2 linked regions of the Homo sapiens genome follow. The protein of the gene in region 2 interacts with the protein of the main gene of each other region in a pairwise test. Each region holds a gene or a part of one and is shown on either strand. Other genes may lie near its edges.

What was found. Proteins that work in one complex are often made in the same cells at the same time.
Region 1: the proteins of AQP7 (region 2) and MFSD6 interact in a two-hybrid assay, tested with the Homo sapiens proteins (one large-scale study listed by BioGRID).

The regions. Positions count from the first base shown.
Region 1 is NC_000002.12:190,414,789-190,418,440, reverse strand, and holds part of MFSD6 (major facilitator superfamily domain-containing protein 6), read right to left. Parts: intron 3,150-3,652; 5' UTR 3,028-3,149; intron 1-3,027.
Region 2 is NC_000009.12:33,392,544-33,396,195, forward strand, and holds part of AQP7 (aquaporin-7), read right to left. Parts: intron 2,971-3,652; exon of another isoform or gene 2,676-2,970; coding exon of another isoform or gene 2,653-2,675; coding exon 2,535-2,652; intron 1,735-2,534; exon of another isoform or gene 1,584-1,734; intron 1-1,583. UniProt on the Homo sapiens protein: Aquaglyceroporins form homotetrameric transmembrane channels, with each monomer independently mediating glycerol and water transport across the plasma membrane along their osmotic gradient. Could also be permeable to urea.

The sequences.
Region 1 (3,652 bases), on a different chromosome or scaffold from region 2:
CCTAGTAAAACCTGACTGCTAGATCATAAGCAAGCTGATTCACAACCTTGGTTGCCCCATCTTGACAACATATTTGCACTTCAACAGGGAATCAGTGGATTATACTATCATATTATTACCAACTACAATACAATAACACTTAAGTAACACTTGCTATGAACCTAGCATGTATTAACTCATTTAATACTCACAACAGTTCTCTGGGGTGGAAATGATTCCTTTCCCAGTTTTACCAATGAGGAAACTGTGGCACAGAGAAGGCAAATAACCAGCCCAAAGTCACATAGGGAATGAGTAGCAGTGCTGCTCTTAGCAGGTACTGACTCTCAATGCACTGTGCAGCTATGAGACAGGGATCCCAAAAGTTAGGTCTTAGGCCTCAAAGACTTGCTTTATCATTGACAAGCAATGATAAACCACATCTCTCTCTCTCTCACATACACACACACACACACACACACACACACACACACACCACTAAAGGGTTAAATGAAAAGTCAGAATAATAATGGAAGAAAAGCCACATAGCCCTATATAATTTATTAACTAAAAGATATTAGGGACAATAGGCATGCTTCTGGAGTTCCAAGTAGGGTGTCCATACTTCAGACAGGGGTTGTCAAGAAAACGAGGGGCTTAAATTGAACTCTGAAAGATGGGCAGGATTCACAGGCAAAGATGAGTGGGAAAACTATTCCAGGGTAGAGGAAAGAAAAGGCAGCAGAGGATCCGTAAAAGATTTATCCCAAGACTAAAGGGCACATGAGGCCACCCAGACAGCAACAGATGGCACAGGGCCTTGAATACCAGGCTGAGGGACGACAGAACACAAAATACAATGGAATTATACTGAAAAAAAGACATTCATTTGAACAACCAAAAAAACCCTACAGCTATAGATCGAGCACCCACTAGTAGGTAGGACACATGCTGGAGGCCACACAGTCCCTGTCATGACACCCAGAGGCGAGAAGAAGACGGGGGCACACACAATCACAACACCTTATGCTAAATGTTCAAACAGGAGCAAGCACAGGTGATGTACACAGAGGGTCTGTGGTGTGGGGCCTCGAGCCAATCTTAAAGGATGAATAGATTGGCAGGGTTTTGCTACTGTGACCTTGCTAAGGATTTCCCAACATTTGAACTTTTATTTTGGTGTGCTGATCTTACCGCTAATGATCCAGTACTGAAGTCCTGTGATGGTATCATTTCAGAACAAACAGTACTTTATGAATTCACTATATCTAATGGGACCTTTCATAACATCTGGAAATAGAATACACTTGAAACATTTTCCTCACTCCTTCCTCTACTTCTAGAGATTGTTCTCACATCTACTGTAGGATTTATAGGTAATTTTATTGCTATCTTTTTACAGATATCTCGTTTGCCCAACAAGACTGTATACCCCTCGAGGGAGGAATCTAGAACATAACATATTGCCCTTTACCCCTGTAAGCTCTCAATACTGTTTATTTTGACAAGCACCTGATGACAATAAACATATAAATTTTTATTAAAGTTTAATGTGATCAAAAATTCATTTTAGGAAGTAGAGTCAAAAGAAGTCCCAGTTGCATCCCCCTGGCTTTGATAAATCAGTGCCTCTTTAAGCCTCCTTTTCCATACAAACTTAAGTCAATTAACTCCCAGAAGGATTCTAGAGCTTAAATGAAATAAAGTATGAGAAAGCATTCTGTTAATCTAAAAGCAACATATGAACATTTGGTGTTGCTGGTAGTTGTAGTTTTATTCCAGATATTTCATTAAAACTCTGGGTCTTATTTTGCAATTATGCCAAAAGCACTTTTCCCAGAATTATTTGGCACCACCCTTGAACTAGGCTAGTATTTCATCCATCTGTGCTCATGAATTTATGTTCATGTCTGTTTTCATGTCTACAGCCTGATGGGGGCCTGTGAGGCACTGGTTCACTGGAGAACACACTATTGTAATATGGACTGGAATGATAATTCATTATCTCCAGGAAAGAAATAACTATTCACTTAAAATAAAATATTCTGTAGAAACATTTTACTTATATTTGTAACATCATAAATCTGAAAGAAAGGACCTGAAATCCTCTCTAACATTTCCTTTCAACTTGCTAACAGGGTGAAAAAGGAACAAATTATTTTGATCTCTTAAGGGTTGGAGGAAATAGCTTATAACCATAAAGATGACTTTAGTAATAAAGACCAACTAGATTTTCACTTTCACTTTGTGGAAGAAAATAATCAAATGTCAATTAAAAATTTATAATTTAGGTTCCTCAGACCTTATCAGCCATCATGAAGCAGATTCCTACTTATTAGTTTTAGACTCCTGATTAAATATTGTGCCAATATAGCATAATTTATAATATAAATTTGAAGCAGGCCCCAGAACTTCATTTCCTTCTACCTTTCAAATAAGCTTCCTGTCTTAGAACAAGCCCAGCGGGAGGAAAAAGTAACAGTTCACATTACAGAGCTATTCTAACACTATTAGACACTGAGGAAGTTAAGAGGGTTAAATAAAGCACAATCTATACACGAGACAAGGCAGTTTAAACAGAAATGTATGGGTGCTTCTTTCTCAGACCTTTTATGAGTTTACAATTGAGACCAGAATATAGATCTCAAGGTTTATAATACATTTTCCTATAGCCCTGGACTATCATCAGTTATTTTTACTTACATCCCCTAAATGTGCTATAGTCTAAAAGAATAATTTATATCCTTAGTACCTTCCCATATATGTAATCTAAAATTGTTTTATTTTGCTGTTAGGGTTCTGATAACTTGAGAATTACCATAAGCTATCAATTCTAATGATATAATTAGTTTCAGAAAAAGGTTTATTACTTAGCCCATAAAATAAAAAAGTGGCTGAGCACAGTGGCTCACATCCGTAATCCCAGCACTTTGGGAGACAGAGGCGGGAGGATCACTTGAAGCCAGGAGTTTAAGACCAGCATGGGCAACAAAGCAAGATCCCATGTCTACAATTTTTTTTTAATGAGTCAGGCATGGTGGTTCATACCTGTAGTTCTAGCTATTCAGGAGGCCAAGGCAGGAGAATCACTTGAGCCCAGGGGTTCAAGGCTGCAGTGAGCTAGGATCACGCCACTGCACTCCGGCCTGGGTAACTGAGAGAGATCCTGTCTGTAAATAAATAAAAATAAAAAAGATAGATACTTTAACATACATACCATACCAATAATTTTTAAAATGGAAATATTCAATGCTGGTGAGTATGAGAATTGACAGGCATTGTCATTCACTGAGAGTAAAAACATAAACTTTCTGAAAAGCAAAGACTTAAATGTAAAGATTTTTATTGCAACACTTTTCACAACAATCACAACTGAAACAAAGTAAGTGATCAATAATAAGGACAGTTAAATAAGTTATGGTGAAAATAGGTAAATAAGCTATAGAGAAAAATAAAATCTTATATCCATATCATGGGAAAATAGAACTTAACTACATGGTAAAATGCATCATGTTAAATGAAAGAGCAGGACACAAACCTCTCGATATAGTACAGTTTATATTTGTAAATCTATGTAGCTCAAATAAAATGTATTTTAGAAAAAGACTCGATAAAAATGACACCAAAGTGTTATCAGGGATTATCTCTGAGTAGTAAAATTAGGACTTATTTA
Region 2 (3,652 bases):
AGGAACACAGATGTGGGCAGGTATCAAGCATGTGGGCGGTGCCTATTTCCCTAACAGCTCTCAGAGGACGCACCCTCCTGCCTCCGAGGTTCCAAGGGTTAACAGCCCTCATGGGGCTGGAATGTCTTGTGATAAGATCATTACTTTGCCCTGGATTAAGGAGGGACAGGATCCAACTGCTGTCCTCACAGCTCAGGAGCCAAAGCAGGTGGGGAGGTAGGAGAGGAGCAAAGGAGGGCTAGAGGCAGAGAGGAGAGAGCAGCTAGAGCACCCGTCCTAATAACAAGGGACCAATACATGGGTACCACAGGTGTACTGGGTGCTGAGACTTGGCCTTCTTCACACAAGTCCTCCAGTTTGATGTTAGTGCTCCTGTTAACCAATAAGGAAGCTACAGTTGTGGGCCGGGCGAGGTGACTCACGCCAGCAATCCCAGCACTTTGGGAGGCTGAGGCAGGCAGATCACCTGAATTCGGGAGTTCGAAACCAGCCTGGCCAACATGGTGAAACCCCATCTCTACTAAAAATAGAAAAATTAGCTGAGCACACTGGCACGCGCCTGTAGTCCCAGCTACTCAGGAGGCTGAGGCAAGAGAGTCACTTGAGTATGGGAGGTGGGGGCTGCAGTGAGCTGAGATCACACCACTGCACTCCATCCTAGGAGACAGAGTGAGACCCTGTCTCAAAAATAAGAAAGCTAAATTTGTGAACAGTTAAGATACTTGTGGATAGTCGCACAGCTAGAAGATAACAGAGCTAGGATTCAAACACAGCTCCAAAGCCCACGAAAGCCTAATTCTACATGATATAAGTGAGAAGTCAGGCTTTAAGCCATGCAGAGACATGCCCAAGGCCAACTGGTCACTCAGTGGCAGGGTCAGGCTAAGAACCCCGGTGTTCCGATTTCCTGTCTCCCTTGAGCTCCATGGGCCCCACCACACACACAAACAGCCTCTCTCACCCCACCTTCCTCTAGCATGCACCTGGCTGCCTTTGCCTCCCTTCCCAGAGGCTGCCCCTTCTTTCTCTAGACCCTGGACCCTGCATAAGATGCAATAAACATGGCTACAGTCACGTTAAGGGCAGAGGCTCGCTGGGGTAAGTGGCAGGGCTGAAGCAGGTGGAGAGGGAGCAACCTCACATCCCGCCTGCAGTCTGGATTCTGTCCCAATCACACACTAAAGAAGAGCCCTTGTCAAGGTTACCAGCAACCTCCACGTTGCCAAACCCAAAGGCCTCTTGCCAGTACTCACCTCGCGTGGCCCATCTGCCGCTGCCCACGCCGCTGACGGCTTCTTCCTGGTGGAACCACTGCCCCCCTCTGTCATGCAGTCTGCTCTGGTTCTCCTCCCACCTCTCTGACCGTTCCTTCTCAGGCTCCTTTGCATGCCCTTCTTCATTCCTCAGGGCTCTGTCCTCAACCCATCCTTTTCTCTTTCTGTACACTGTCTCTGGACAGTATTGACAACTACCACCTGTGTTGTGATGAACTTCAACTTTTTCCTTCCAGACCAAGCCTCTCCTGAGCTCCAGCCCCTTGCATGTGTTTAACTATCTCCTGGATTTCCCCACAGGCATCTCACCTCTCACCCTGTGCTGGGCCCCGTGCTCCAGAACAGCTCATCGGCGCTTTGCCCACATCTTCTGCTGGCAGAGTCTCCCTGATTCTGTCTTCCACAGCCCTCTCAAACATGTGCTTTCTTCTCCAACCCCAAACCAGTCATCACCTTCTCTCTGTCCCAGATCAAAAACAGCCTCTTAACTGGTTCCCTCTTGCCAGCCTTGCCTGTTCTGCTTATGCTCCACACTGCACCCAAAATTACCTTTAAAACCCAAATCTGATCATGTCACTCCCCTGCTTGCCAGCCTTCAACATCACCCACTGCCCTCTGGATTCATTATCAGAGCCCGATCATCAAGTTTCTCTTCAATCTCTCTCTCTCTTTTTTTTTTTTTTTCTTTTTTTTTTTTGAGACAGAGTTTCGCTCCTGTCACCCAGGCTGGAGTGCAATGGTGTGATCTCAGCTCACTGCAACCTCCGCCTCCTGGGCTCAAGTGATTCTCCTGCCTCAGCCTCCTGAATAACTGAGATTACAGGCGTCCGCCACCATGCCCAGCTAATTTTTGTATTTTTAGTAGAGACGGGGTTTCACCATGTTGGCCAGGCTGGTTTCGAACTCTTGACCTCAGGTGATCCACCTGCCTAAGCCTCCCAAAGTGCTGGAATTACAGGCATGAGCCACCGCACCTGGGCCTCTTCAATCTCTTTATCCTGGGTTTCCCTTCTCCCCATTTCCAGCCGTGCCCCGGATACCCCAGTGCATGGTTTCATTTGACCCCCACATATTATGAGCCCTTTCTGTCCAAAAAGGCTTGATGAGAAAGCCCCCCCTCCTTACTTTCCTCTGCTGCTTCCCCAGGCTCCCAGCTCAGAGGCAAGGAATGGACAATGTGACCCATGGGGTCAGCATGGGGAGGGGGTCATGGACGGCCCTGGCGGAGCCCCACCCACTTCGTGCTGCCCACCCACTCACCATCATGACATATGTGCTCATGAACTCGGCCAGGAACTCTCGCACCATCTTCCTCTGCAGTATTTCCTGGATCTTTGCTATCACGGACCAGGAGACCATTTTGGAGCCACGGGTGGACCTAAGACAGTGGCCCGAGCCCATGGACAGAAAGGAGACTCAAGTCTGCCTGCTGCCCATCGGCTCTTCAACTCCCAGCTGAGTTAATAGGTAACCCAGCAGCCTCGCCCACACACGCCTCCTCTTGCGCAGGGCAGCTGGGACAGCTGGAATTGGAGACACTTGAGAGCCACGGGGACATGGAGAGGAACTGGGGTAGATGGCCAGGCCATGCCCCTTCTAGTTGGGACTGGACCAGTAAAAATGGCACACCAATGAGGCCACTTTGCAGATGGGCGGGTGGGGAGCTGAAAGTGCAATCCACGGTGCCAACAAGCCTCTGGAAAAAAGCAGGGTGGGAGAGAGCAGGCTGGAAAGTGGAGCTCAGTTGTCTATGTCTGTCCGTCTGTCCGTCTGCCTATCTGCTAGAGCCAGAACTTTGGGGTCACAGGCCAGGGCCTGGCAACAGTGAGGCACTCTACAAACAGCATGAGGTGTGACAAAGTCTGCTGCCGAGCTCTATAAACAGCACTGAGCGCTGAAACAAGCGCCAGGTTCTGTCAAAAATGAAGGGGTCAGCAAAATGCACCAGGCTGTGCAACCAGGTCAGTGCAAACAGAGGTTTGTGAGAGAGTGAGTGAATGAATGAATGACCAAGAGAGAGGGAGGGAGAAAAGGAAGGACTGGATCTACTTCCTGGTGTATCTTCAGTGCCCAGCACCACGCCAGGCACATAGTAGATGTGCAATAAGTATTTGTTGAATGAGTGAAAACTGGGGAATCTGTCTTACTCCCAACTAGATCCTCAGAGCTTCCCAAAGGGCCTGGCACTTGATTTATATTGAGTTAAGTGCACGGTTAGATGGAAAGGTAGATGAAACAGGTGAGTAACAGGGCCCAAATCTGCATATAGAGAGAGGTATAGGACTGGAGTTTGGGGAAGGTGGCGGGGTGGGCCTGGAGGATAAAGAGGAAGAAGAGGGGCTGGGCCCGGTGGCTCACGCCTATAATCCCAGCACTTT